Linked DNA regions of Homo sapiens. The protein of the gene in region 3 interacts with the protein of the main gene of each other region in a pairwise test. Each region holds a gene or a part of one and is shown on either strand. Other genes may lie near its edges.

The links.
Region 1: the proteins of ARV1 (region 3) and TMX2 interact in binary tests that used the Homo sapiens proteins (3 or more experiments, as listed by UniProt).
Region 2: the proteins of ARV1 (region 3) and SMO interact in a two-hybrid assay, tested with the Homo sapiens proteins (one large-scale study listed by BioGRID and IntAct).
Region 4: the proteins of ARV1 (region 3) and TMEM31 interact in a two-hybrid assay, tested with the Homo sapiens proteins (one large-scale study listed by BioGRID).
Region 5: the proteins of ARV1 (region 3) and TLCD4 interact in binary tests that used the Homo sapiens proteins (3 or more experiments, as listed by UniProt).
Region 6: the proteins of ARV1 (region 3) and SCN3B interact in binary tests that used the Homo sapiens proteins (3 or more experiments, as listed by UniProt).

What each region holds. Positions count from the first base shown.
Region 1 is NC_000011.10:57,719,093-57,724,533, reverse strand, and holds part of TMX2 (thioredoxin-related transmembrane protein 2 isoform 1 precursor), read right to left. Parts: intron 1-5,441.
Region 2 is NC_000007.14:129,193,983-129,199,423, forward strand, and holds part of SMO (protein smoothened precursor), read left to right. Parts: intron 1-5,441. UniProt on the Homo sapiens protein: G protein-coupled receptor which associates with the patched protein (PTCH) to transduce hedgehog protein signaling. Binding of sonic hedgehog (SHH) to its receptor patched prevents inhibition of smoothened (SMO) by patched.
Region 3 is NC_000001.11:230,995,121-230,999,631, reverse strand, and holds part of ARV1 (protein ARV1), read right to left. Parts: intron 3,873-4,511; coding exon 3,648-3,872; intron 2,512-3,647; coding exon 2,369-2,511; 3' UTR 2,365-2,368; intron 10-2,364; exon of another isoform or gene 1-9. UniProt on the Homo sapiens protein: Plays a role as a mediator in the endoplasmic reticulum (ER) cholesterol and bile acid homeostasis. Participates in sterol transport out of the ER and distribution into plasma membranes.
Region 4 is NC_000023.11:103,707,489-103,713,708, forward strand, and holds the start of TMEM31 (transmembrane protein 31), read left to right. Parts: upstream 1-3,420; 5' UTR 3,421-3,588; intron 3,589-4,747; 5' UTR 4,748-4,770; coding exon 4,771-4,872; intron 4,873-6,031; exon of another isoform or gene 6,032-6,105; coding exon 6,106-6,220.
Region 5 is NC_000001.11:95,151,050-95,156,490, reverse strand, and holds part of TLCD4 (TLC domain-containing protein 4), read right to left. Parts: intron 5,167-5,441; coding exon 5,072-5,166; intron 1-5,071. Other genes in the region: TLCD4-RWDD3 (TMEM56-RWDD3 protein), read right to left, coding at 5,072-5,166.
Region 6 is NC_000011.10:123,637,522-123,641,419, forward strand, and holds part of SCN3B (sodium channel regulatory subunit beta-3 precursor), read right to left. Parts: exon of another isoform or gene 3,446-3,898; intron 1,100-3,445; exon of another isoform or gene 1,018-1,099; intron 804-1,017; coding exon 665-803; intron 1-664. UniProt on the Homo sapiens protein: Regulatory subunit of multiple voltage-gated sodium (Nav) channels directly mediating the depolarization of excitable membranes.

The DNA.
Region 1 (5,441 bases), on a different chromosome or scaffold from region 3:
GGGACAGGATATTTGGTAAGGCTTCTTAAACAGACCTATGATTCTGTAGGAGGGCACCCATGTAAAACGGGCCCTCTTAACCTCCAAATTTACCATGACCTGGGTAATAGACATATTTGGTGGGAGGATATCCCAGTTATCATAAAGCTAGTGCAACATGGCTTGTATATGAAACATACTAACTGCTTCATCTGGGGTACTTCACTTGGTATTTTAAAGGGAGAGTTGGGCAGTTCCCTTCTCAGGGCAAAGAGACCTTATAATGGCATTATCTGGCCCACTAGGCTGATTGCTTTTTCAAGAATAAACCCCCTTTGCGTTTGGATCATATATACTCAGTGACTGTTCAGTAATGAGTTCTGGGTCCTGCATTAATTCAAACAAGCTCTTAAATTCTGTAGCATTTAAAATTAAGAATTTTGTCCTTAAAGCAGTTATTTTCACAATCCACTAAAGTTTTTTTTAAAAAAAGAAGCTGAATGATACCAATCTACAAAATGGAACAATTCCTTTACATTACACCCTTTGGTTTTAAATAGTTACTTGGTTTTGCCCTTCCCCTATATTGACTATTTTCTTGGTAACCATAGGGCTCAGAGTTTTGTTGCCCTGGCTTGTTTTGTTTTCCTTTTTAAAAAAAAAAAATCCATTTAGTTTTATCTGTATAATTTTCTTCATTATAAAGCAACTCTTAGCTTATTATTATTATTATTATTATTATTATTATTTTTGAGACAGAGTCTTGCTCTGTCACCCAGGCTGGAGTGCAGTGGTGTGATCACAGCTCAATGCAACCTCCGCCTGCTGGGTTCAAGCAATTCTCCCATCTCAGCCTCCCGAGTAGCTGGGATTACAGGCACTCGCCACCATGCCCGGCTAATTTTTGTATTTTTTTTAGTAGGACAGGGTTTCACCATGTTGGCCAGGCTGGTCTCGAACTCCTGACCTTGTGATCCGCCTGCCTCAGTCTCCCAAAGTGCTGGGATTACAGGCGTGAGCCACTTAGTTTCTTTCTTTCTTTTTTTTTTTTTGCGATGAATTTTTTTTTTTGAGACGGAGTTTTGCTCTTGTTGCCCAGGCTGGAGTGCAATGGCACAATCCCGGCTCACTGCAACCTCCGCCTCCCGGGTTCAAGCAATTCTCCCGTCTCAGCCTCCCAAGTAGCTGGGATTACAGGTGCATACCACCATACCCAGCTAATTTTTTTTGTATTGTTAGTAGAGATGGGGTTTCATCACATTGGTCAGGCTGGTCTCGAACTCCTGACCTCAGGTGATCCATCCGCCCTGGCCTCCCAAAGTGCTGGGATTACAGGCGTGAGCCACTGTACCCAGCCCAAGCCACTTAGTTTCTTAACAAAAAAGAAACTTACATTTTTTTGAGAGTTGACATCCGTGTGTTTATTTATTTATTTATTTTCTTTGAGACGGAGTCTTGCTCTATCCTCCAGGGTGGAGTGCATTGGCACAATCTCAGCTCACTGCAACCTCTGCTTTCCGGGTTCAAGGGATTCTCCTGCCTCAGCCTCCCAAGTAGCTGTGATTACAGGAACACGCCACCACGCCCAGCTAATTTTGTATTTTTGTACAGATGGGGTTTTGCCACGTTGACCAGGCTGGTCCCGAACTCCTGAGTTCAGGTGATCCACCCGTCTCAGCCTCCCAAAGTGCTGGGATTATAGGCTTGTGCCACTGCACCCCAGCCAATAAAATTTTAATAAAAGCATATTTTATGTTTCTACTATCTTAACTTCTAGTAACCCAAATTTCCAGTGGGGGAAAAAAAAACTTGAGGGTTTAAACATGACTTTAAGATTTTTAAATCACTGGAGAGTTTTACCAAGGTTATGTAAATTAAAAGGCATCTGAGCTAGCTTTTACCAATGTGATAAGCACTTACATTTTTTAAATTACTTGATTAGAGCTCTTTCATGTAGTTTGGCAGTAAAGTATCACTTCTATATGACACATATAAAGATACAGATATAACAGGCATGCAGAATAAAAGCCATGTTCAAAAGATACTTTATTTGCCTGTTTTCAAAAACAATTTTTCTCCCTTACTTTAGATAATTAGTAAAAGTTACAGGACACAACAAAAGGTGAAGGAGAGAGCCATCTTTCAAGGCCTTTTCAAAAGAGAAAGAGGGCCGGGTGCAGTGACTCACACCTGATTTTATTGTCTCAACTCTTTTATCTTTTTCTTCTCCTTTTAAAAAAATTCCTTCACTGAAGCTGGGTGCGGTGGCTCACACCTGTAATCCTAGCACTTTGGGAGGCTGTGGTGGGAGGATCGCTTGAGCTCAGGAGTTCGAGACCAGCCTGGGCAACACAGTGAGACCTCCTCTCCACAAATGATTTTTAAAAATTAGCTGGGCATGTATGTTGGCACGTGCCTGTACTCCCATCTGCTTGACAGGCTCAGGTGGGAGGATGGCTTAAGTGCAGCAGGTTGAGGCTGTAGTGAACTGCGACCATGCCACTGCACTGTAGCGTGGGTAAGAGAACAAGACCCTGTCTCCCCCCTCAATTTTTAAAATTAATTTAAAAAATAAATAAATAAAATTACTTCAGTGAGAAGGAAGAAATCTCAACTCTTATTGCCTGGTTAGTCCTGGGCAAGTCCAATCCAGGGAGGGCCTAGCTGGTGTCTCAAATTAATAGGTCTATGATTAGCAGCCCCCCACGTATTGGTGGGATACTACAGGAAACACACACATAAACACCATCCTTAACTGTCTATGAAAACAAGAGTCTTTCGCTATCTTAGCCTATTTTTGAAAGTAAATATTTTGGGGGAATGTGAGGGTTATATCATCTGGTATTCTGAACCTAGAAAATTACCTCTGAGACTTTCCATGAAGAAGGCTTATTGGCTTAAGTCGCTAAGTAAATTGGCTTTATTTAAAAAACATTTTAGACCAGGCACAGTGGCTTATACCTGTAATCCCAGCACTTTGGGAGGCCGAGGCTGGTGGATCACCTGAGATTGGGAGCTTGAGAACAGCCTGACCAACATGGAAAAACCCCATGTCTACTAAAAATACAAAATTAGCTGGGCATGGTGGCACATGCCTGTAATCCCAGCTACTCAGGAGGCTGAGGTTGTGGTGAGCCGAGACTGAGCCATTGCACTCCAGCCTAGGCAACAAGAGCAAAACTCCATCTCAAAAAAAAAAAAAAAAAAAACTTTATTTATTTATTTAAATAAAACATTGATTGATTGATTGATTGGAGATGGAGTCTCACTCTGTCACCTAGGCTGGGGTGCGGTGGCACTATCTCAGCTCACTGCAACCTCTGCCTCCCAGTTCAAGCAATTCTCCTGCCTCAACCTCCCAGGTAGCTGGGATTGCAGGCACACACCACCACACCCGGCTAATATTTTGTATGTTAGTAGAGACGGGGTTTCACTGTATTGCCCAGGCTGGTCTCGAACTCCTGAGTTCAGGCAATCCACACGCCTTGGCCTCCCAAAGTGCTAGGATTACAGCCACCGTACCTGGCCTGAGGAAAAAAAAAAAAAACAGCTATCTTTCTAGTACCCATAAAAAGATACAGAAAGAACACAGCCTTAGAAACTCCCTTGGCAAGATTTTTAAAAGACAGAAATCAGATTCAAAACACAAGTTAAAATTCTTTGTACACTCAAACTGCTTGTTTTGGATCCCCTGAAGGGCCTGCAAAAAGGCACTATGATCTGTGGTCTAGTGGCTGGCAATAAACTGGTTAGCTGCTGCAGCGTGGGTTCGATTCCTTGTAAGGTAACAGTCCATTGCAGATGCAAGTCTTTTAACTCAGAGGAAAAAAAAGAAACACTTATAAAAATTAGTTTGAGGCCAGGCACGATGGCTCACGCCTGTAATCCCAGCACTGTGGGAGGCCAAAGCGGGCGGATGGCTTGAGGCCAGAAGTTCGAGATCAGCCTAACTAACGTGGTGAAACTGTCTCCACTAAAATACAAAAATTAGCCGTGTGTGATGGCACACGCCTGTGATCCCAGCTACTCAGGAGGTTGAGGTATGAGAATCGCTTAATCTGGAGGCAGAGGTTGCAGTGAGTAGAGATCATGCTAAAGCACTCCAGCCTGGGCGATAGAGCAAGACTCTGTTTCAAAAAAAAGAAAAAGTTTTGTTTTGAATTTCCATTTGTTGACTCCTGACTTTTGGGGGTACTCATTCGTTATTGGTACCATATACACAATAAACACATGTATAGACATATACATACATATATAGACACATGTATCGATACAAAAGCCAAAGACTAGAGAGTTTAATTCAAAAGAGAGAAGAGTTTTAAACCTGACATGAACCCATTAGTGACTTTTGGGGCTCTATAAGGAAAACGAGAGGCCCCAAAAGAGAGGGTCAGTGGCACCTTTTTTTTTTTTTTTTTTTGTATTTTTAGTAGAGATGGGGTTTCACCACGTTGGCCAGGCTGATTTTAAACTTCTGACCTCAGGTAATCCACCTGCTTCAGCTTCCCAAAGTGCTGGGATTATAGGCGTGAGCCACCGCGCCCAACCAGTGGCACCTTTTTTTTGTCTTCCTCAAGGGATCTCAGGGTTGTCAGAAGTCCCATCTAGACCCCTTTAAGGGTTATCAAAGGTGGCAAAAGGAAGAAGTAGAAATACATGGAACAACCAGTTTTGGAGAAGCCAATTTGGAGAGATTTTAAGCTTCCCCAAAAGGCTAATGAAATTTTACATTTTCAAGGCAGGGTGCAGTAGTTCATGCCTATAGTCCCAGCACTTTGGGAGGCTGAGGGAAAATGTACCACTTGAGCCCAGGAGTTCAAGATCAGCCTGTGCAACATGGCGAAACCCCATCTCTACAAAAAATACAAAAATTAGCCGGGCGTGGTGGTGTGCACCTATAATCCCAGCTACTCAGAAGGCTGAGGTGGAATACTTGAGCCCGGGAGGTCAAGGTTGCAGTAAGGTGACATCTCACCATTGCACTCCAGCCTGGGCAACAGAGTGAGACCCTGTCTCAAAAAAAAAAAAAAAAAAAAAAAAGACAAAGAAAAAAGAAATTTTACATTTTTCTCAGCAAAGATCATGCCAACAAGAAAGGAAGTGAACACAAGGACTAAACATAATTTTTTTTTAAAGGGGGTTTCAGTGAACTGAAAAAATTTCCCAGGGCATGAGATCCAAAAGAGAAAAAGCAGAAAGCCTTTAAAAAATAAAAAAATTGGCCAGGCACGGTAGCTCATGCCTGTAATCCCAGCACTTTGGGAGGCCGAGGCAGCTGGATCACGAGTTCAGGAGATCGAGACCATCCTGGCCAACATGGTGAAAACCCGTCTCTACTAAAAATACAAAAAATTAGCCGGGCGTGGTGGCGTGCACCTGTAATCCCAGCTACTCAGGAGGCTGAGGCAGGAGAATCGCTTGAACCCAGGAGATGGAGGTTGCAGTGAGCCAAGATTGCACCA
Region 2 (5,441 bases), on a different chromosome or scaffold from region 3:
CCAGCTACACTGGAGGCTGAGGCAAAAGGATCGCTTGAACCCAAGAGGTTGAGGCTGCAGTGAGCCATCCTCACACCACTGCCCTCCAGACTGGGCAACAGAGCAAGACCCTGTCTCAAAAATACATACATACATATAGATATGTGTGTATGTATACACACACACACATATATGTATAGTGAAAATGTAAAATACAGAAAAACATACATGGACCTAAGTCTTTTTTAAAAAAAAATTATCTTTAATTAATTATTTGAGAAATGGGGTCTTGCTGTGTTGCCCAGGCTGGAGTGCAGTGGCTATTCAGAGGCTCACTCATTGTGCGCATGGTGCTTATGGTGCCTGGAATAGCTGGCACTACAGGCATGTGTTCTGTGCCAGCTCAAGTCTTCAATTTTGCTTCAGATCTTTAACTTTTTAATTGTGAAATATAACTGTATGCAGAAAACTGCATAAAACACAAAGGTACTGAATAACAAATAATTATAAAGTGACATCTGGGTCAATAACTAGACCACAGTCAGACCCCTGAAGCTCCCTCTGTGTCTTGTCTAGTCACATCCCCCTCCCCTTGCTCAAGAGGTTTTCAGTAATCACATCCTTTTTTTCTCTATGGTTTTACCTCCTAGTTTTGGAATCCATAAGCAGTATATTTCAGCTTTGCATGTTTTTGAACTCTGTTCAAATGGAATTTGTACAAAATAATATGCTGTGCATATTATTTCTTGCTTCTTTTACTTTATATCATTATGTAAGATTCATCCATGTTATTGCAGCTTATTTCTTTTTTGCTTGTTTATTTGTTTGTTTTTGTTTTTTTGAGACAGTCTCACTCTGTCACCTAGGCTAGAGTGCAGTGGCGCGATCTCGGCTCACTACACCTCCACCTCCTGGGTTCAAACGATTCTCCTGCCTCCGCCTCCCAGGTAGCTGGGACCATAGGTGCACGCCACCAGGCCTGGCTAATTTTTGTATTTTTTAGTAGAGACAGGGTTTTGCCATGTTGGTCAGGCTGGCCTCAAACTCCTGACTTCAGGTGAGCCACCCGCCTCATACTGCAGCTTATTTCTTCATTGCTGAATAATATTCCATTATATGAGTATACCCCCAGTTGTTTACCCATTTTATTGTCATCTCAAGTTTTTGCCCATTGCAAATAACATTGCTGTGAGTAGTCTTTTATGTATATCCTAGTACAACTGGCACAAGTTCCTTCAGGTATATGCTGAAGAAGTAGAATTGCTAGATAATAAGGCACGCATACTTTAGGCTTTTGCCAAACCATTTTTCAAAGTGGTTGTACTAACTTATACTCCCACTAGCTAGTAGAAAGTCAACACTGGTTCACATGATTCCCAACATTTGGTATTATCAGCCTTTTACATTTTTGCCAATCTAGTGGCTATATTGTGGCATATATTTGTGGTTTTAATTTGCACTTCCCTGATTACTAGTAAAGTTAAATGCCTTTTTAAATGCTTACTGGCCTTTAGGGTTTCTGCTTTTGGGAAGTGTCTGTTCAAATCTTTGACATATTTTTCCATAGGGGCTATCTGTCATTTTTGTAAGATTTGTAGGAGTTCTTTATATATGCTAGATATGAGTTTATAGGATTACAAAGGAAATCAATTATATTGACATAATAGTTATCAAATATAAAAATGCAAGTATGTGGGCTTATTTATTTATACAATAAATAAGATCTGGTGCAGGTGTAATAACAACTATAATATCAAAGTGATTATAAGCATTGACATTATTTCAAGATATCTGCAACAAAAATATCTGGTTTCCACTTGTGACAACGCCACAGGTACTATTAACATTATGTACTGTGGGCCAGGCGTGGTGGCTCACACCTGTAATCCCAGCACTTTGGGAGGTCAAGGTGGGCAGATCACGAGGTCAGGAAGTCGAGACCATCCTGGCTAACACGGTGAAACCCCATCTCTACTAAAAATACAAAAAATTAGCCGGGCGCGGTGGTGGGCGCCTGTAGTCCCAGCTACTCGGGAGGCTGAGGCAGGAAAATGGTGTGAACCCAGGAGGCGGAGCTTGCAGTGAGCCGAGATCGTGCCACTGCACTCCAGCCTGGGTGACAGAGTGAGACTCCCTCTCAAAAAAAAAAAAAAGAAAAGAAAAAAAAAACAAAAAAAAATTATGTACTGCGATGTGTTGCTTACATTCATAATTGGAGGAAGGGCCAAATTTTAGTTAGGTGTAATTTTTTTCCCATTGAAATTCATGGACCTCTGAATTTTTCCAAGAATCCTTTGTGAACCATAGGGTAAGAATGTTACTTACAGAATATCACTATCTAGTAGAGAGTCTGAGCTATTCTTGATTGTGTGTGTGTGTGTGTGTGTGTGTGTGTTTTAATAGAGACAGGGTTTGACCCTATTGTCCCGGCTGGTCTTGAACTCCTGGGCTCAAGTGATCCTCCTGCCTTGGCCTCCCAAAATGCTCCTTTGTGTTTTAATATAAAAATACTTGGTGATTTTTTATTGGGATTGCATTGACTATATAGATTAACTTGGAAAAAAAAAGAGACATCTTTACAATACTGAGTCTTCCAAACATTGAACATTTATATATTTCTATTTAGATCTTTCATTTTCTCAATATTCTGCACAGATTTAAATACTTATTATTTGTTAGACATTCCTAGGTACTTGATATTTTTGATGCTGTTGTAAATGATGCCTTTAACATTTATTTCACTTTGTTTGTTGCTGACATATAGAAATAAAACTGGCTGGGCACGGTGGCTCACACCTGTAATCCCAGCACTTCGGGAGGCCAAGGCAGGGGGATCACGAGGTCAGGAGATTGAGACCGTCCTGGCTAACATGGTGAAACTCCATCTCTACTAAAAATACAAAAAGTTAGTCGGGCATGGTGGCGGGCGCCTGTAGTCCCAGCTACTCAGGAGGCTGAGGCAGGAGAATGGCGTGAACCTGGGAGGCGGAGCTTGCAATGAGCCCAGATTGTGCCACTGCACTCCAGCCTGGGCAATACAGTGAGACACCGTCTCAAAAAAAAAAAAAAAAAAGAAATAAAATTGATGCCTTTAACATTTATTTCACTTTGTTGCTGATATATAGAAATAAAATTGATTGTGAATTCAGTAAACTTGCTAAATTTATTCTATACACATAGTCATATAATTTGTGAGTAATGAGTTTTGTTTCTTTCTTTCCAAGTCTTATACCTTTTATTTATCCTTATTGCTTTACTGAAGGCTTCCAGTACATTGTTAAATAGACAAAACATCTTAATTCTTGACTTTTCTGGATTCTAAAAAGAAAGCTTTTTCTACCCTTCACCATTAAATTTGATGTTTGGTATAGGTTTTTTATAGTTAATTACATTTTATCAGATTAAGAACGTTGTCTCTTATTTCAAATTTGCCAATTATTCTTTTGATCATAGATGGATGTTGAATTTTATCAACTTTTTTTTTTGGAGACGAAGTGTCACTGTCACCGAGGCTGGAGTGCAGTGATGCGATCTCAGCTCACTGCAACCTCTGCCTCCTGGGTTCAAGCGATTCTCCTGCCTCAGCCTCCCAAGTATCTGGGACTACAGGCGCATGCCACCACGCCCGGCTAATTTTTTGTATTTTTAGTAGAGACGGGGTTTCACCGTGTTAGCCAGGTCAATTTCCTGACCGTGTGATCCGCCCGCCTCAGCCTCCCAAAGTGCTAGGATTACAGGTGTGAGCCACTGCGCCCGGCTGAATTTTATCAACTTTTTTTTGCATCCATTGAGATGATCATATGATTTTTTTCTCCTTTAACCTGTTAATGTAGTAAATTGCATTGATTGAATTTTCTAATATTAAACCAGCCTTAGAACAGTGATACTCAACTTGACTAGTCATCAGAATCACACAAATAAAAAGTCTTTTTAAAAGTCTAGATCAGCCAGGCGCGGTAACACCCGTATTCCTGTTTCTCTTTTTGTTTCATATTTTATTAAAATAAAAGAAGTAAAATAATACTGATAAAGCTGATATCCCCTCTCTTTCTCGTTTCAGTTTCATATCCTTCTTTTCTCTTTGGAAAGCTTCCCCATCCTAGTAATTTGTGTATTTCTTTATTTTGTTTTTAAGCTCAAGTTTTGTTTTTGTTTTTGTTTTTGTTTTTTTGTAGAGATGGGGTTTGGCCATATTGCCCAGGTTGGTCTCGAACTCCTGAACTTAAGTGATCCACCCACCTTGGGCCTCCCAAAATGCTAGGATTATAGGCGTGAGCCACCATGTCCAGCCTTAAGCTTAATTACTTTTAAAAAATAGGTTATACATGTACATGGCACAGAATTCAAAAGGAACAAGTTAAGTCCTACTTCTGCATCTAGCTACCCATTTTTCCTCTGCAGAAGTAACCACCAACACTGGTTTTTGTGTCCTTTTGGAAATATCCAACATCTGTCCAGATGTAGATGTGCTCTCAGTCTCTCCTCTACCGCCCAACCAGTACCATGCTCTATAGACTGCTCTCCACTCAACTGAGTCCATGTAACATGACAACATTGGACATCATTCCATTTCAATGCACATCCTGTCATGCACCCCAGAAGGAGATTTTGGTTAACAATGGACCACATGTGATGGTGTTCCCTTAAGATTATAATACCACATTTTTACTGTAGCCTTTCAATGTTTAGATATGTTTAGATACACTGATACTCACCGTTGTGTTACAGTTGCCTGCAGTATTCAGTATAGCAACATGCTGTACAGGTTTGCAGCCTAGAAGCCATAGGTTATACTGTATCAGCTAGGTGTGCAGTAGGCTATACCATCCAGGTTTGTGTAAGTACACTCTGATGTTCACACAAAGATGACATTGCCTGATGACACATTTCACAGAAGATATCCTCATTGTTAAGCAACATGTGACTATATCTCAACCCTGAATAGTGTTCTATTATAATGGTGTACATTATTTTACTTGGTTGGTCTCCTATTGATGGATATGGATTCAAGCTGTTTCTACTTTTTTGCTATTGCAAAACAGTGCTGCAATGAATAATCTATATTATCTTTGTGAACATGTGAAGTAGAAGTACTAGTATAAAATTTTGGTAGATAATGCCAAAGTGATCTCCACAAGTGTTTACTAATTTTTATTCCTACCAACAAATATAAAAGTGCCAGTTTATCCCTACACTCTTTATAGTACGGTATTTTCTTTTCTTTTTTTTTTTTTTTTTGAGATAGAGTTTTGTTCTGTCACCCAGACTGGAGTGCAATGGCGATCTCGGCTCACTGCAACATCCGCCTCCTGGATTCAAGCAATTCTCCTGCCTCAGCCTCCCAAGAAGCTGGGATTACAGGCGCCCACCACCACACCTAGCTAATGTTTGTAGTTTTTTAGTAGAGACGGGTTTTCACCATGTTGGCCAGGCTTGTGTAGAACTCCTGACCTCAGGTGGTC
Region 3 (4,511 bases):
CTGCAGGACCTAAGGAGAGCATAAGGCAAGTTTGGAGAAGAGAGGACCTGTGGTGGATGTGGAACTTAAGTAGGAACATGCCTGGGGAGAAGAATTAGGATGATGACATTACAGAGGGCCACACTAATGCTCAGAGAAAACTAAAGACATTCTTCAGAAAGACACAAGAAACTCCTATGTCAGCAATCAGAAATTATGGAAAAATTGAGAAGGCCCCCAGGAATGGTGCTCCATGAAGACTTACATGGCAGCAGTATGGGTTGCAGGCTGGTTTGGAGGTGTTAGAACCTTTAGGCAGGAGAGGGTGAGGTGTGGGTGAAAAGAGCTGAGGAGCATTTCAAGAGAAACGTTATCAGAAAAGGACTCTGCTTCAACAGGAGAGTGCAGGTGACACCGAATTCCACATCAGACCTGTGGACACTTGAGGTAATGGCAGGACCGTCCTGGTAGGAGGCAGGGGACCTGGCAGAGAGGGGAAGCTGGAGGTATGAGGCCTGGAAGGAAAGTACACAGTTACGTGCACAGTGAAGGGAAGGAAGAGGGCTGAGGACAGAATCCTGGCACAGGCAAAGAAGTCAGTGAAGAAAGATCTAATGGGAAGGGACTGGGTGGCCTGTTTCAGCAGGAGCCAAAAGCCAGAGGTTTCTGGAGCAGAGCTAAGGGAGGAGGAGGACTCAGAAAACAAGGAGGAATTGGCTTCCTTGTGTATTTTTTTGTTTTTGAGACAGGATCTTGTTCTGTCACCCAGGCTGGAGTGCAGTGGCACAATCACAGCTCACTGCAGCCTTAACTTCATGGGCTCAAGCAATCATCCTACCTCAGCTTCCTGAGTAGTTGGGAGTACAGGTGTACGCCACCATGCCCAGCTATTGTTTTTTTTTTTTTTCCTGTAAAGATGGGGTCTCACTATGTTGCCCAGGCTGGTCTTGATCTCCTGGGCTCAAGCCATCTTCCTGACTCGGCCTCCCAAAGTGCTGGGATTACAGAAATGAGCCACTGTGCCCTGCTCTCCTTGTGAATTTTAGGAGCATAGGTTCAAGAGACTCTGGGTGAAAGTATGTTTTACAAAGAGGAAAGGCAGTGAAGAAACAGGGGAAGCAGGCTTACATCAACTGTTCTGGAATGAAGAGCTGTGCATAGGCAGAGGGGAGAGAGCTGCTATACAGGAGAGAGGATCAATGAAGCAGCGATATGTCTGAAGACCCAAAAAGGTGGATTAGCTGGGCATGAAGAGAGATTGAGGCAACAGGAGTGGAGGATGGCATGTTAGGAGAGGCAGAGAAGCTTTACAGCCGCTACTTGCAAGGAGGATGTAACAGCGAGGAGGGAGAGACCAAAGCGCAGCCTCAACTCTCCCTGACGGGGGTCTGTGTCCCTCTGCTCCAGTGTTTTCCTCACTCTCTGGCCCAGCCTTCCAGGATCCTGCCTAAGGTCCTGCTTCCTAACACAGAGGCTGCCATCCACAGTCTGGCTGTGACTGGAGGGAGGGGAACACCCACAGGTCAGAAACAGCCCCAGAGAGGAAGCTGAGCACAACATGAGATAGGAAGGAGAGAAGGAGGAAAGAATGAGGAAGACCGAAGACGAACTGACGTGAAGAGGGAAGCTTAAGGAACTTGTGAAGGTCTCAATTCTCAGCAAAGTCAGAGCAGACAAAGGGGACGACCAGAACAGAACAATCGAGGTATGGCCCTCTGATGGGAGGGTCACTGGAGGTGACTATGAAGGCACAGGAGCAGCATGACATCTTCTGAGGTTCTGTGCACTGGCAGAGGTGGCTGCTCAGGAAACACTGCGAGGCTCTCTAGGAGACAGGTGGCAAGACTCACCCAAACAGCCTTAGCAAAGCACGTATGATGGAAGGCAAAAGGCTGATGGATGTCAAGGTACTAACAGAGAAGAGCACAACACAGCCTATAGGTTCCAGGTGTGGTTAAAAAAGAGGCAAGGCAGGTCAGAAGTAGCGAAAATGAGAGGTCAAGAGACTAAGAGGTGAGAAAGGCAGCAAAAACCTGGCATGGGGGAAGGGAGGGTGGAGAATGGTTGGGAAGGGTAGGAGACAGTTTTAGAGTCTGCAATCCTAGTAGAATGGGTGGGAGTGGAGGTGTTAGAAAAATTGTGAGGATAGGACCCTAGAAGCAACAAAAACATGGATGTTGATGTCCCAGAGGGTGACAAAAGGAACTAAAGTGAAGACCCCTGGGGGCCATGTAGTAAAGTCCTTGAGGAAGATGAGGGTGACCTAGAGGCAGTTAGACGCTAGAGAATGGGTTATGTAAGGGCACCGACTTCTTTTACAATGACATCTGTCTTATTTGAGAAGGCTACATGTCTGAATGCATGAACACTACATGCTTTCAGTACCTCTTCAGAAGTCCTGAGATTTAAAGATGGCATAATCACTTCCAACATCCCATTCCATACTCTGGAAGAAGTAGACCATGATGCTTTCCAGCAGTAAGCCACTCAACACGGCCAAGAAGGAGAGCTTACGGTTGATGTTTAGGGTCACTGGAAAGGAGAAGGCAGCCAATAAGTTCAGAATTAATGAAACGATATTGACATGTAAATTTTCGGGTAGTATGAATTGTTTTGTAAAGCTGTTTTTGGAAAAATCAATGTTTGTTCTTATTAATCTATGCTGTTACCTTCTCCCACTTTTCCATCTACACATTTTTAGAGAACCAAAGCCTCTACTTACAACAAAACACTGAGCCCCTTCTCCTCATATCAAGCGGCAGATTCCCGTGAATATCAAAGGAGAAAACAAAAAATTCTAACGCTATAAGAGAATAACGACAACAACAACAAAATGATACTTTCAGTGTCACAGTTTGCAAGATGACAAGCATTCTGATAAAAAGTATCAGGTAATAAGTTCATTTAAAATAGGACTTCGGCCAGGCACAGCGGCTCATGCTTGTTCCCAGCACTTTGGGATGCCAAGGTGGACAGACTGCTCGAGCCCAGGAGTTCAAGACCAGGCTGGCAACATGTCGAAACCCTGTCTCTACAAAAATTTAGCAGGGTGTGGTGGCATATACCTGTGGCCAGCTTTTCAGGAGGCTGAGTTGGGAGGATCACTTGACCTCAGGAAGTAGAGGCTGTAGTGAGTTCTGATCACATCACTGCACTCTAGCCTGGGTGACCAAGTGACACCCTATCTCAAAAAAATAAATAAAATAAAAATAAATAAAATAGCACTATGTAAAATATATGGGAAAAATGAAGACACACAGGGCTGCTCTTCCTGATATAGTAGAAATTGTCCTGGATTGAGAGGCAGATACTCAGCATTCTCTCCTGACTTGATAACTGCCCAGCCATGTAACGTCGGACAAGCCACTTAACCCTCAGAGCCCCAGGAGCTCATTCATAAAATCAAATAATGGCAGTTCTACTAACCTCACAGGACAGAGATGATGCATATGAGAGCATTTTGAAAACTATAAAGTACTATATGGTTAAATGTAACAAACACTGAGTACCTGCTATGTATAAGGTGCTATAGAAGTGTTAGGTATTATTACTATGCGATGAAGAATTCCAGTGTTCAACAGGTTATATAAAAACTGCACCCCAGAAACAAGGCTTTAAGCTTTTTATGGGTTGAAAACTGAGAAGGCAGAATAAACACATAAACATACCTCTAATTGCCTGAAAATTTGATGTAAGAACAAATACTTTAATGAGTTTGAGGCACACAGATGTGTAGTCATGTTCCCAAATGACAGCTGGAATCAGCAAGAGTTTTCCGTAGCTAGATAATAATAATGCTTTCAGCAGCAAAATGAAGTTGGGCTTTTTTTTTGCCGTCATGGGCCGTTCTACCCACAGGAAGGTAAAAATGCCAATAAAATAGGCAGTTTGTTCTAAAGAAGAAATGGAAAATAAAAGTATGAATGTCCCCATCCAAAATATATCCCCTTAAAAACAAATAAACCACCATTCTAAAATACAGCTTATCAGCTGACTTCATAAGAAATACTTTCTCAAGATCACAATCTCTTTTTCTTCTTCTTTTTGTTTGTGTGTTGTTTTTTTTTTTTAAATAAACCCCTGGCTTTTGTATTAGATCCTGCTGGTATAATTTCAGAAACATTATCCACTGAAGAAAAAGTAACTCCATTAGAATTGTAATCATCAACTTTCTGAAGTTCCTTGAAGGAAGTAAGATTCTGCTTAAACATCTTCAGTGTAAGAGATCTCCAAAGAATAAAACAGGAGAATGCAGGCTTTTCAGTCTGAAAGATGGGACCTATCGTAAGAATGGGATAACACAGGAAGACATTTTTCTCTGTGCATTCTTCCACTATTTAAGTGCCTATTATCCACATGATTTTTTAATATTGTTAACTGAGACTTCCTTTACTCATTTTAACAACATTTTAAAATGCAATTCCTTACACTTCCAGAAAGTATTCATAGGACAGAGTCCAGATTAACAGCAGCAATAGTTCCACTGTGTCCTATGGTCAGAACACAGCACAATCTGTTCAGCTTCTATTAAC
Region 4 (6,220 bases), on a different chromosome or scaffold from region 3:
CGACTTTCTTGGATGATATCTTCCTCCTGGAATTACAAGGAAGAAACGGCAGAATTTGAGGTCAAAGCTCAAAGGCAGAGGGATAGAGAACAGACCACCCATCAATATCTCATAGGGAATGTTATGCAGACAAGGTGCCTTGGGTACACAGGCCCATTGCATGCTTTTTATGGTCACAACACTACTCATGAGATAGATGTATGCTAAGCAGCTCTACGTGCTATATATAGTGTATGTCATGATTCCATGGCAGATAGGCTCTAAGCTACCCATGTAAAATGCAAAACATCATTTAGAGTTATCTAAAATCCAGTGAAGTGCCGGCCACTGTGAGAGGACATCTCAATGTCAAGTTATCTCTGACTGGTAATAAACAAAACAACAAAACTATTAGATAGTGAAGTTGAGATATTCAGTCTTAGTAAACTTGACTTTAATGACTTTCAAAAGCTTCAGAATTCATTCCCCTTTTGAATCGTATCTTTTAAAATTTATCTCAACTTAAAACTGAAAATTCCAAAAGTTTTAAATAACCCAATGAGTTATCCAAATTAGGATAAACACATGCCCAGTGAGGGGTAAATTTTATATAAGCACTAAGTAATGCGGCAGACTGCCAAAAGTCCATTTTCCAATAGTTAGCTGACAACCTTTAGTAGCTAAACGCAGCTAGGAGCCAGGAAGTAGGGACAGAAAGATAAAGTTGAGAGAGAAAGAGAGCAAGAGAGAGCGAGAGAGAGAGAGAGAGAGAGAGAGAGAGAACCAAAACCTCTGAGTGTCAATAGAGAGAGCTTTACTTATATGAGGCCCTCAGGCCCCCATTCACAGCCTATTTAGTCTTATTTTATATGCAACCCTAACAAGCCTAATTTTATTTACTTCTAAAGGACAGGGTTGAGAAATGCTTCCTTCAAAGATGGTGGTAATTTCTTAAAGTATTCATGGTTTTAGAGTCAAAGTTTCAGGTATCTAAGAAATCACCTGAAGTGCAATGGCCTCTTGGAGGACGATGCAAACTGTCATCTCGGTTTGTCCAGAACGGAAGGTGTTCCTAAGACTTGGGTCTTTCAGGGCTGAAACTGGGGAAGTGCAAGGCAAATCAGGAAGAGCTGGTCATCCTGTGGCTACCTGAGGTATTTATTATAAGTTATAAGAAAAAAATATGTGTATATTGTATAGGTATGACATAGATATATACAAAATGTGGATAAAGTAGATTTTAAACACTCTGTCTCTCTCAGTTAGAGGGACACCACAGGGTCTTTATCGTGGGACCTCTGCAGCTATGGCAACACACTGAAAAGTGGCTTTGCCAGGCACGGTGGCTCACACCTGTAATCCCAACACTTTGAGAGGCCGAAGCTGGCGGATCACGAAGTCAGGAGTTCGAGACCAGCCTGACCAATATGGTGAAACCTCTTCTCTACTAAAAATACAAAAATTAGTCAGGCGTGGTGGCGGGCACCTGTAATCCCAGCTACTCAGTAGGCTGAGGCAGGAGAATCGCTTGAACCCACGAGGCGGAGGTTGCAGTGAGCAGAGATTGCGCTATTGCACTCTAGCCTGGGTGACAGAGCGAGACTCCATCTCAAAAAAAAAAAAAGAAAAAGAAAAAAAAAAAGAAAAGTGGCTTTGTGTATGAGATGTTGGTGTTGTAGGTCCTAGTAACCCTTGATAATGACATGACTAGAAACTGACCTGTCATCATAAAGACAGGCCTTGGTTCACCTCACATGTACTCTGTAATTCATTTTTACACTATTCTGACAAAGGAGGTTGTGCTGGACCCATTTTCGAGGTGAAGAACCAGAGGCAAACAAAATATTTTGCAATAATTTTAAAATGAGGGGAGTAAGTAAAATGGTTTTCTCCTTTGATTTCCAGTTCAGGGTCCCTCAGATGACCCTGTTGCCCAGTACTCACCCTGATCCCCTGAGCCCTACCCTGGCTAGAGGATGTAAGCAAAGGATGTTGGCAAAAAAGCTCTGAGGGGGAAAGTTGGATCCAACTGCTATTTCTGTTTCTATAGATCTAATTATTTTCCCTTTTCTCCAATCATAATAAATCTAAAGGGAGTTATTTGGACACATTTCCCAGGCTGGAAAAAGCCATTTCACACAGGAGAGAAAATATGGCCAACAGAGTAAGCTGGTCTTGGCTTTTTGTGACTTTAACATACTGCACCTGTTGTAGCTGGAGGAGCAAAGATGAATGGCTTGAAATCCAGGGGTGGGGCATCCTGCATTTGGGTATTCTCTATTTAGGCCAAATTCTGAGGGGTGTTTGTGTGTGGGGTGTGTGTGTGTGTGTGTGTGTGCTGGAAAGGAACATTGGAGCCTTAAATACCACTTTGTGGCTTACATGCCTATTAAAATAGAACTTTTTTTCCCCTGGCTATCTATAGGGGAGAAGGACTGAGAAGCTAGAGAGGGAAGATATCTCAAAACCACGCTAAGGAGGGAATGCACAGTGTAGGAGGTAAAGTGTGGAGATGGGAAAGAGTGATTTGTATTGAAGTGAGAGGGGCTAGAAAAAAAGGGATTAGAGAATGGGGAATGAAGAGGGTGCTGGAGGATGAAGAGAGGTGGGCAGGGTTCTGGGACCAAGCCCTTGAGAGGACTGGGCAGTATTTTGAAATTTCTTCCAGTTATCAAGTTATTCTATTGATCATGGCAAAGCTTTTGCTCTGTCCAGTTTGAAAGACAGTCCTCTCCAATCAGCCTGTAAAAGTTGGTGAGCTGGGTTACATGACTGCTGTGTCCAGAGCCTGGTGCTAAGGCCTGCTGAGGAGATGAAAAAGAGCTTCCCTTTCCTGGGGAAGCTTATGGACTAGCCGGGAAGACAGTGTAGGATTGCATGGGTAAAAAGTAAACCACTTTAGGCAGTGACATGAAAGGGGGCCACCATGCTATGGAGTTGTTGGTTGAGGAGAGAGTTGAGAAGAAAAGATGTGAATGGCTGGCTGGTTCCTAGAACACTCCTAACTGACTCTTGGCTAAGGGTTCCCTGGAGATCACATGGATTTTCTCCCTGCCCTCTCAGACTGAAGAATTCTTTTTCCCTAGCTGGAGCAGTAGGGCCCGGACAGAGGTTCTAGAAATGGATGAACTCTCCAACAATTTTTTCAGCCTGCTTGGTGCCTCCAAAATACCTGCTACAGGTCCTGGGATAACAGTGACTTTAGAAGACTCAAAAAAGGACATGACGAATGGCACGGGTTTGATTTTCAGTTTTATTCACGTTAATAATAATAATAATTCACGTTAAAAAAAGCCTCAGCCCACTTTTAGGCAGGCCCCAGAGTCCTAAGCAAGGCCCAGGCTGCTGTTGTAACTTTGTAATAATTGAGCACTGGTCATGACAGACTCCATTATGAGCTCAGGATCAGCCTATATATATGAGCAGGAGGGGACAGGCTGCAGGCAGTTGCGGGTTGCAGGAGTTCAGGAAAGGAGGTGGGACTAGAGTCAACCTGGAATAGCTCTACAGTAACAATGGCAGCCTTTTTGTTGCTGGGACATCCATACAGGCAACTTAGCTGGTGAAAGGACTCTGGATTGGTTGGCAGTCTGCTTTTTTTTTTCCAAGGTAGGCATTGAGAAGGCACCAAGATCAAAACTCCTATAAAGATAAGATCTTGGTACCTGCAGGCAGATTTGTTCGACACAGCTAAAGAGGGGGTGGGGACAGTTAGCTTAGAAAATGGAGTGTCCTGGCCGGGCGCGGGGGCTCACGCCTGTAATCTCAGCACTTTGCGAGGCCGAGGCGGGCGGATCACGAGGTCAGGATATCGAGACCATCCTGGCTAACACGGTGAAACCCTGTCTCTACTAAAAATACAGAAAATTAGCCGGGCGTGGTGGCGGGCGCCTGTAGTCCCAGCTACTCAGGAGGCTGACGCAGGAGAATGGCGTGAACCCGGGAGGCGGAGCTTGCAGTGAGCCCAGATCACGCCACTGCACTACAGCCTGGGCGACAGAGCGAGACTCCGTCTCAAAAAAAAAAAAAAAAAGAAAAAAGAAAATGGAGTGTCCTTTTTTCTTGCCCTTCTGCTAGGTGTATACACATATTTTTCTAACCCTTGGTATGGGTTAGGAAATGCTTTTAGGTTTCTTGAAGAATGAGTCCTACTCGAGGACATGTAGTTGTGGATTAGTCCACTAGAGGGCGTACTGCCCAGGGACCAACTAAAGGACTAAAGGGTAGGGACTGATAAATTCAAACCACTAGATGAGACAGGAGCCCTGCCCTCAGCAGAAAGGAACCTTAGCAAGGGACATGAAACCAAGGAGGTAGTTTGTGAGATATTTTTAGTGCGGACATACGGTAGGGGTGCCCCTGGAGCAGCTGAGGTGGGAGGTGGTGTGTTGAGGAGAGAACATTCCTTGTGCTAGTGTGGCCCAGACAAGCTAGAGTCAGGATTTTAAGAGTGGGTTCACAGCATTGTTTCCCATCCCCCAGAGGTCATTATGCTCTTGCCTCTCTGGCTTTAGAGCCTCCAGATTAGACAGAAAACATGGAGTCAGAGCTGAAGACAGACCAGAACTCTGTGTCTCTAATGGTTAAGCAACCAGTATGTAGCTCAGTTAAGCCTTTCAGCTTTGCTCATAATTGGACACTTGCTTCTGTGAGGCTGGCCCAGGCACCTCTGTTGTCATGACAACTTACCTAGCACCTATTGTCTGGGCAATTGGGGGTAAACTGCCTCTGTTGTCATGACGACAAGATTTCTTTTATATTTCCCCAGGTGATCACTTTACTGTAGAAGAAATGAGGTTAACAGAAAAGAGTGAGGGAGAACAACAACTCAAGCCCAACAACTCTAATGCACCCAATGAAGATCAAGAAGAAGAAATCCAACAGTCAGAACAGGCAAGTGGTGGTTTCTCAATTCCAACTTAGTTATGGGGGTCCTCTTATAATGCTCCCCTAGAAAGACACCAATGCCTGATTGTTGAATTCTTAACCACCAATTAGTGTATGACAACCTGGGCTACCTTCCTCCCGGTTGTGGGGGAGCAATTACTACTCAAAGCAATCTCTTTTTATTTATTTATTTATTTACTTATTTTTTGAGATGGAGTCTCACTCTGTTGCCCAGGCTGGAGTGCAGTGGTGTGATCTCAGCTCACTGCCAGCTTCAAGTGATTCTCCTGCCTCAGCCTCCTGAGTAGCTGGGATTACAGGTGCCCACCACCACACCGGCTAATTTTTGTATTTTTAGTAGAGACAGGGTTTCACCATGTTGGTCAGGCTGGTCTCGAACTCCTAACCTTGTGATCCACCCGCCTTGGCCTCCCAAAGTGCTGGGATTACAGGCGTGAGCCCCCGTGCCTGGCAAAGCAATCTCTTATTAGCTAACTTGGTAAGGTTCTACTACTAGCTAACATATCTTCAGTGCTTATTCTATGTCAAGCAGTGTGCCCATGCCCTTAATCAATCTACTATACTGACTTACAGAATCAAAGAGATTAAAGTAATCAAAGAGATTAAAATCAAAGAGATTAAAGTAATCAAAGAGATTAAAGTAATCAAAGAGATTAAAGTACTTAGCTTAACAGTGACCAGCTTAGTACTAGAATCCAGGTTTCTTTCTTTCTTTCTTTCTTTTTTTTTTTTGAGAAGGAGTTTTGCTCTTGTTGACCAGGCTGGAGTGCAATGGCTCAATCTCGGCTCACCGCAAACTCCGCCTCCTGGGTTCAAGCGATTCTCCTGCCTCAGCCTCACAAGTAGCTGGGATTACAGGCATGCGCTACCACGCCCGGCTAATTTTGTATTTTTAGTAGAGACAGGGCTTCTCCATGTTGATCAGGCAGGTCTCGAACTCCCGACCACAGGTGATCCGCCCACCTCGGCCTCCCAAAGTGCTGGGATTACAGGCGTGAGCCACTGCGCCCTTATGAATCCAGGGTTTCTGATTGCCTATCTAGTCCTTGCAGCCCTGGGGTGGGTCTTGGTTTGTGGGGAGGCGGAGTAGGGAGGAAGGAGTCCAAAGGAGAAAGGCAGTGGGCCGCTCCCTAGTTGTACTCACCAAGCGTTGGCGCCTCTGCCTTCTTCGAAGTCGTATGAATTCTTTATGCTGACGAGAAACAAAATTTATGGCAGCATACTCCAGCAAGGCAGCGAACACAAAGAGCAGACACACAGCCATCCAGATGTCGATTGCCTTCACGTAGGACACCTACAACATCCAGCGACAGAACGATCAACCTTCTTGAAG
Region 5 (5,441 bases), about 140 Mb from region 3:
TACAACCATTCCGTGAAAAGCAAAAATGCAGGGCTGGTGAGTCTGAATTTTCACTCCACCTATCAGCTGGCCCTATCTTACTCATCCATATGTACAACCATCACCCATGTCTACACAAATCCCATACCCTGACACCCCAAGTCCTCAGTATCACCCATGAAGATCTGACATCTCCTCAGTGACTTTCCTCAAAATGTTTTCTGACCTAGAAAGCCTTCCCTACTTTTTTTTCCAACCTAAATATGCATATTTTTGAAGGCTGGGTTTAAATCCCATCTATCTCAAAAGCTCTCTTAGAAAATTCAAAAAGGCATAAATATACATATGAACATTTATGTAAAACTTATATAAACTGCAAGAATATACATCAAGTACTATCAGTAGTTATCTCTGGAGAATCAGACCTAGAAAACATTATACTTACTAAGCCCAGTATTTCTACAAACTCAATTTTTTTTTTACCAACATCTATATTCAGAAGAAAAATTAACAGAAATTAACACAATGATCTTTCCATTCCTTAAATTACTACAGTATTACTGATTGATCCCTGGATGACACTTTAATTTTTAAATAGTATCTTATATTTAAATCTTACATCCCTAATTGAAACCACTCATTCTATCCTATTGTTATCCCCTATCCCCCACCCTCCTTAGCTCAAAATCTCTGTAATACCTGGTTGATCCTGCCAGTAGGAAAAAAAGAAAAATAAAAAAATCTTAAAAAAAAAAAAAAAACCTCTGTGAGTCACACTGGGGTGCAGAACTATGCTTCAGTAATCTTGAGTCTATATTTTCTGATCCTGTACCCGTCAATATATCAATGACTCTGGGCCCATTTAATCCAATGACAGATAGCATCACATGTGACACATACGTCCATCAGCATAGGTGGCCATTAGATAAGATTCAGGTTATGCATAATTCCTTGTTACTTTATCCTTTTCTCTCCTATTCAAGAAAACCTACTAAAATACAAATGAGATAGATGCTATTAAAGGGATAGGATTAAATCTTTCTATAATATTTTTAAATAATTACAAATTCTGATACTTTATTGTTGGTAAATTATGGCAAAACTCACAAGTTATTTATGGTTAGTGTGGTGTCTCTACTCTGTCATCTACCTTTAAGGAGCTTTGCATAGAGTAAAATCTACATTTGCCATGGCCTCTGCATGACTGTGAGGGGAAACAAAACAGGATTTTTCTGATCCCTTCCGCAGCTTAAAAGAAAATTCTCCTTTTAGCAAGCGATTATGGAAGTCTGGATTTTCTTACTATGGGAAATTTTTCTACCAGCTAAGAGTGGCTAAGACCAGAGGTTTATAAGGTGGGGGGGAAAAGAGAACTAAATTATGCACCTACTACTGCTAGTATGGTACTAAATACTGACTGTTCTACCACCAAAGGCCTGGACAGAAATGGGCACCCTTTCCCTACTATACTACACTACACTGCACTGCACTGCACTACACTACACTACGACTATATGTTGGTAGGAAATAAGTTCTGGGCATCCCAAATTGGAATCCTGTGTAAAAACGTGACCGTGTTCTATAGTGGCAATGATGGGGCATTTTTTAACAGGTAATAGACTGACCCAGAGTCTCAAGCACATTTCAATTGTGCTTGAGACTCTGGGTCAGTCTATTACCTATTAATGGAAACCGTTTCAGGGTACCATCAACCTAGAATTGAGGTTTGGAAACAAAATCTATTACTATGTTTAATAATTATTTGCTTAATTGTAATCATTCAAGGTTTTTGATTATTTGCTTATAAGACAGAGATGAAGGTTTGAGCTAACACACAGGACTGGACTGCCAAATCAGACTCATGTGAAACAGTGTTCCTACCTAGCATTAAGCTCTACTAAATGTTACAAAGATAGAGACCATCAAATAATTCAAATGAAGCAGAGAGAGGTCTGGGACATCAAGGGCCACTGGCAACCCAGTTATTTATTTCCTTGCTGTGTGCCTACATGACCTTCTCCAATGAGCTGTGCCTTATAGATACTGGGTTCTCTTTACTATAGGTAATCCTTACCCAGGGACACACTGCTAAGGGCATTTCAGAGTTAATGTTTCTTCTTCCTAACAAACATCAGTACTCAATTTATCCTAAGTCCTGTTGACAAGGAGATTAGACTGGGCCACGTGCCTTCTTTTTCTCCCCTCCTGTCCCCCAAGGAAGTGAATGGATTGGCAGGCCAGCTGCTTTCACCTCTTCCTCCTAGGGTTACTTAAGAACTTGGTGACATAACTTAGCTTATTGTTAATTCCCCCATTGTCTAGTTCTCTTGCATCAGAACTAAATCAAATCATTTCAACAAAACAGGTGCATCACAGAATCTCAGAATTAGAATAGAACCTTAAAGATTATTTAGTGCAAGCTCCTACCTAAAGCTTCTGCTGATTGTATCTACTTTTATATCTATCTGACTAAAGCTATCTTATGGTAGAATAGCCACTTTAAAAGGCCTTTCCATTGTGATAATCTTCCAATCACTGAGGATGTCTTTCTTCCATAAAATAGAAGTCTCCCCTACCTCTCTTTACCACCCCATTGGTCCTAGTCCCAACATCAGAATCAATCCAGAATAAGTCTACTCCCCCTTCCACTTAGTAGTCCTTTCACATTTCCAGGGACATTTCAAGGCCATCATGTCCTTATAGTTCTTAGCTTTTCTAGGCTGACATCTCCAGGTCCTTCAATTGTTTGTTATAAGACAATAGCTACCTAATCTAATATCTCCTCTCTACAGTTAACTAGCAGCTCTCTTCCAGATACATGCAAGTTTAGGGACTTCAGATGATGATGGTCTTGGATGTGGTCTGACTGGGCAAACTACGTGTGAATTGGATACCAGGCCTCCTCTAATAGAATCTAAATTTGAAAAAGCTTTCTGTTTTAGCAGATGTGATAAATTGGCATAACTGAGATGCAATCATCTACCACCTCCAGGTCATTCTTTATCCTTATGCATCGTTGAACCTAAATGCAAAACTTAACATTTATCACTATTAAGTTCCACCCATTTGTTTCAGTTTATAGTTAGGATGAAGCCTTTCTAAAAATGTAATAACATTGTCCAATATGTTATTAGTTCTCCTTCCTAACTTTGTTTCAGTTATCTCATAAGCTTGCTTTAACATTTTTATTATGGCAAAATATATATGACATAAAATTTACCCTTTTGACAACTTTTAAGTGTACAATTCAGTGGCATTAAGTACATTCATTTTGTTATACAACCATCACCACCATCCATCTCCAGAACTTTCCATATTCCCAAATGGAAACTCTGTACCATTAAACAGTAATTCCCCATTATCCCTTCTGCCCAGCCAGGATCACACCACTGCACTCCAGCCTGGTGACAGAGCAAGACTCCATCTCAAAAAAAAAAGAAAATAAATAATAATAATATGGTGGGCTTGGAAATTGATGCATATTGAATGATTTTCAAGTTTAAATGTTTTCCAAATATATTCTAACTCATTATCTAAAGGCATGGTTTAATTGGAGAAAGAAGTGATTCACAAGGAACACATACACAAAAAGTGAAGGCTATCAATGTAGTCAGAAAGGGTGTACAAAGGATGGTAGTTTGTCCTTAAAAATTGAGGATTAAAGCATAAATGTGTTCATTTCTCTTAGAATAAGAGATCAGCTTGTCAGGTTTATTTGATAATTAGTATCCTGCTCCAGGGGTGAAAGATGAGTATCAGGAAAAAAGGCTGTAGGATTTGTACCTCTCTATATAGACAGAAGAGGATTCATTAAGCTCTAAATTACTTTGCCAGAGAATTTCAAAACGTCAGTAAATATAGTAGAAAGATACAAAAATAGCAATCAAGACATTATATAACCTATAATACCTTAAATTCCAAAGAATCTTACTTTTCAACTATTTCTTCAGTAAGGATACATTTTAAAACTGCAGGGAACTTGCTTCTATTCATCACTTTAAGTTTTACTTTGGTTCTAATAACAAAATCATTTAAGAAAAAAAGCTTACTGCAAACAGCTTAAATGGTTACATAAGTATTAAGTCAAAGTGCTTTCCAAATACAAGTTCTCATTATTGCATAAGTGATAAGAATTTCATGATCATTTACCCCCCCAAAATTATAATTATTATTATTTTTGTTAGCTTTACTTGGAATAACAAAATGCACAAAATGACCTGGGAATTCACTGCATAGAAAAAAACCTTCTTATAGTCAATGAGTAACTACTGTAAGATTGGTAAATAACATAGGATCCTTATAGCATCTGTTAACATTCATCATTTCATCTAACTTTTCCTATTTTGTTTCCCTATGAATAGATTCACTTTAAAAGACAAATTTTAAACTATAACAACAGAACATAGACATATCAAAAAAGCAACCATCTTTATGAAAAAAATTGCAGTTGCAATATCTACCTTGAGCTTGTTGGTATATTTATGTTGAAAAACAATTGATTCTAGAGAAACCTAACAAACATACAAGGAATATAAAGTTGCTAGTTTACATATGTATATGTAGAAATTTTAGATATATAATTTAATATGCTTTACTGCCTGAGATCTGTTGGAAGAATCCTCTATTAACCTTGGTCTTGGAATTCTGAAAAAGTCTGAGCAAGATTTCTCCACTGCTCCAACCTACTTAAATGTAATTATGTATATGTAATTGCACATGGAATTAAACAGAAAAGAAATATTTTCGCTGGCTCATACTCTTTGCTGTTAAATCATAAATGCATCTAGAAATACAGACAAATATCTATAGCTACAACAATCCTGAAGGTTTTAAATGGAAATTCAAAGAATTAGGGTCATTTGTCTGTCTCAAAATCTATGAATACAAACAGACACACCAACACCAACACAGACACACATAAAGGTATTATTTTAGTTAATACAGAAGATAGCATACCACAAAAGCAATCCCTGAATGCATCTGGAGATGGTCTTTAAAAACTAAGAATTGTATGTTTAGATTTATGTTCACCTTTACATCACTATTCCCAATCTTGTCTGCTAGTTAGGCTACAGAAAATCCTGGAACTCACCAGTACAAGGTAGTATGCATACAGGGACGCACAATGATGCATTATAAAAAATTTGTCACCAATCACTTTCCAATACAAAATTATAATGGACAAATCTGTAAGAAAGAAAAGTGAGTAAGGTATTACATAAGAAGAAAGTTGCACTGTTTTTCAAATGTATTGAACTCTTTCTCCTGCCAACTCATCACTGTCCACTCTGAGCCCACAGCACTTTGTTCATCCCTCAGTTAGTCTGATTATCTACTTTACCATAAAATCTCTGCTCCTATATGCCTGTCTCATCCACACTCCTGTGGCTCCTCTAAGACAAGGGCCAGGTTGTGAGCATCTTTAAACCCTCAGAATCTAGCACAAGGCCTGGCATGTAGGT
Region 6 (3,898 bases), on a different chromosome or scaffold from region 3:
TTGGGCTTTTATTGTTGTTGTTTTTGAAATGGAGTCTCGCTCTGTCACCCAAGCTGGAGAGCAGTGGCACGATCTCAGCTCACTGCAACCTCCGCCTCCCAGGTTCAAGGGATTCTCCTGCCTCAGCCTCCCGAGTAGCTGGGATTACAGGTATGTGCCACCATGCCCAGCTAATTTTTTATACTTTTAGTAGAGACGGGATTTCACCATGTTGGTCAGACTGGTCTTGAACTCCTGACCTCAGGTGATCCTCCCGCCTCAGCCTCCCAAAGTGCTGAGATTACAGGCGTGACAGCCATCATGCCCAGCCATAATAATATTACTTTAACGGGTTGTGGTAGCAGCTGATGGTCTTTGCCTTAGTGGTTAAGTGTGCTGGCCAAGAATCAACAGGCCTGAATTCAAACATCACTTTGTTTCCTAAGTGATGTTTGAATTAAGCAAATGTTTAATTTTTCGTAATGAATTAAGAGTTTGCCTTAAGCCAACTCTCCGAAATTCAGTGTTCTCATCTGTAAAATGGGTATAATAATGGTGCCTATCTCTTAAGCAGTGATCATGAAGAGGGTGGAGGATGAATGTAAACTGCTTAGCACCTCACCTGTGAGAGCAAGCATTCTGAAGGTGCTAGCTTTCATTATTACTTTGGCATCTCTGGACTTACGCGTTTTCTTGGGCTGCCTCTTCGGCTTTTGAGACCTTTCTGTAGCAATATATCATCTCGATGAGCAGCCACAAGGTGAGGAAGACCAGAAGGATGTACATCATGATTTCTGAGACCACAGAGGTGAAGTCCTCTCCAGCTGAAAGAAAGAGAATGAGGTTCAGAATATGCAAATCCAGCAAACCTAGAGCCGTCATTGGAGCCATATTTTTAAGTACAGCTTAAATAAAGACTGAGTAAAGAAACTCAAGAAGATGTCAAAGGTATTCCAAATCCTGACTCTCCCGCCCATTGGCTTTCTCACTGACTGTCATCAGCTGCTCAGGAGCCAGGGAAGAGGGAGTGGGATGCCTGGAAGAAGTAGCCGAGCAGTGGAAGGAATCCTGGCCTCAAAGTGAGATATCTAGAGCTGGCTGTCCATTTTGCTATTTACAGGTGTGTAAACAACCATTTCCCTTACTTGAGACTCAGTTTCTTAATTTGTAGGTTGAGGATAATAACACCAGTCAGGGGTTTGTGAATATTACATTATCTAATGTATTTCAGAACATCTTGTGAGATTAAAAGTCTACACAGATGTAAGGAACATGCCTTATTTCAACTGCCTCTGTCTTTTGAGCTGCCGGTGGTGGAGGGTGGTATTCCTGGGGAGAGAGCGTTGGAAAACTCATTCAGGGCCAACAAAGACAGCCTCCATGAGATATGCGCATGTTCTCTACAAGTCTGGGTTAGAAACAAGACCTTCCAGGTCATCCAAAACCAAACATAAATATTGGAGGATTTAGTGTATCAACCGCATTGTCCCCAGGGCTGTACTTTTGAAACACAGTTAGGATCCTGCCATTTCCCTGCTGAAAACTCTTCAATGCTCCACACTCCCCTTAGGATGAAGCCCCAACTCTGTTCACGTGACATGCAAGGGCCTTCACAATCCGGGCTTTCTCACCTCATTTCCATTTGGTTGGCCAGAAAAACTTCTGCTACACACTGTGGTATGTTAGAATCTGTGAACTTTTCTTCCTCTTCCCTCTTCCTGAATTGTGTCTTTCACCCACGGCTAGTTCTGTGCTAATATCCTCTCCTGCTTTGCAGTCTCGCAGTAGTTCTAGATTCCTGTGAGGTCCCCTCCTTTGTGAAACCATCCCCAACTTCTCATGCGGAGCTATTCACAACCTTCTCCGTGCACTTTTCTTTTCTCTTTTTTTTTTGAGATGGAGCTTTGCTCTTGTTGCCCAGGTTGCAGTGCAGTGGCATGATCTCGGCTCACTGCAATCTCCGCCTCCCAGGTTCAAGCGATTCTCCTGCCTCAGTCTCCCAAGTAGCTGACATTACAGGCACCCACCACCATGCCCAGCTAATTTTTTATACTTTTAGTAGAGACGGAGTTTCACCATGTTGGCCAGGCTGGTCTCGAACTCCTCACCTCAGGTGATCCTCCTGCCCTGGCCTCCCAACGTGCTGGGATTACAGGCGTGAGCCACCGCGTCTGGCCTCCATGCACTTTTCTCATCCATCTGTTATAAGAGTTGTATTGTGCTTATCTTTCTTTTCTGTGGACTGTGTGCTTATTGAGAACATATTTATTTCTGGATTATCTGCCTGCTGTATAAATCTTAGAATATTTAAAGTGCTCAATAAGTACTTATTGAATGAGTGAAAATAAATATTATCTTATTTGTTTCATGATCAACAAAAAGGACCATTAAAACATACTACATGGCAGATATCCTGATATATCTACTCCTTGCTAGTGGGAGAAATGTTGTAGCCACCTCTCCCCTTGCCAGCTCTCAACAGCAAGTCAGATTTATGATCTGCAGTTATCCATTGGATCTAAGTCATCCCCAAGTCCTTGGTTGTTAAGAGCACAGCACAGCCTGCCATAACTTTCAGCCCAGAGAGCAGTCCGAAGGCTCCAGGATCACCCAGGTTTCCAACTGGAGCTAGAGGTCATAGATGCAGCGTGAGGCACATGAGAATGCCGTACAGCTCAAACATCTCACCGCCTTGCTACCACCTCGTGCATTATTTATGATTTGTTTGGCTTAAAGCATGCTCTCTCTTTCAAAATGCAGTAGCCCACAAATGGCAATACAGGAAGCTGTCCTCAGTATTTTTAGTTACCTCTAGGTGAAGAGGCCTCAGGTTTCTGCCTTAGGGCCAGGAGGTGACAGCCAAAGCCAGAATAAACCCAACTTGAACAAAGAGAACCAGGGAGACCTTGTGGGACCACAGGAATGGAGGAGATGTGGGGTTGATGGGCAGGTGTCATGGTGGGGTGGGTGCGTAGCTCTGAGCAAGATGAGGGCAGGGAGTATCTGATGTCACAGAGGCAAAAAAGAAAAAGTGGCAGGGGGTTGGGGTGGTGGGGGTGGGGAAAGAAACAGTGGAAAGCAAGCCCTCCAGACAGGCGAACAATCTGGATTTTCACCCTGCTTCCAGCGCGAATTTGCTGCACGTCCCTGAGCAAGCCCCTTGCTCTTGCAGAGAACTCTGTTCTCCCAGCCACAAAAAGAGGGGCACCAGAGCTACACCCTCCAATCACCTGGGGAGTCATCAACTTGCATATGACCTCACTCACCCCTGCCGATCTCACACCTGCAAGGGTGCTGCAGAGGTGTCTACATCTGGAGGACGCCAATGTGGGCGATTCTGATGTCTGCCCTTTATCCAGAGGCCCTGGATTAAATAAATGATATCCACGCTTCCTTCACACCCGACCATCCACGAGGCTCTGTGGCTCTGATAATAAACTTGTTTTTCCTTCTGTTTTTACCCGAGGCTTGCTCTGGTACCTGGCAGACGAACTAGCTCAGCCTTGCCACACTTCCCACCAGCTATGCACGAGGGTGTCTGGAGGCAAAAGCCCGAGAGAGCAGAGGTGGAGACGGCTGAGCACTGTGCTAAGGTCTGGCGGGCACCAACCAAAAGTTCCAGATGGTGACCAGGAGAGGGCGCCAGGGCCCCACCCCCCAGAGGAAAGGCGTGTAACAAACGGGGGATAAAGGAACTTCAGAACAGGGGAGTACCTCAGAGAGCCCCCCGCCAACCCCTTCATTTCACACCAGAGGAGCGGGGCTCCGAGCAGGGAAGTGACTCATCAGGTCTGGATTCAGGAGCCCTGAGAGTCCCTCTGCACTTTCAGAATTGACCTACCTTCCATTTTAGTCATATCGTCTGATCCGTTATGTCTCTTTCTCCTTTGTTCATTCACTCTGAGGACTGAATCTCCGC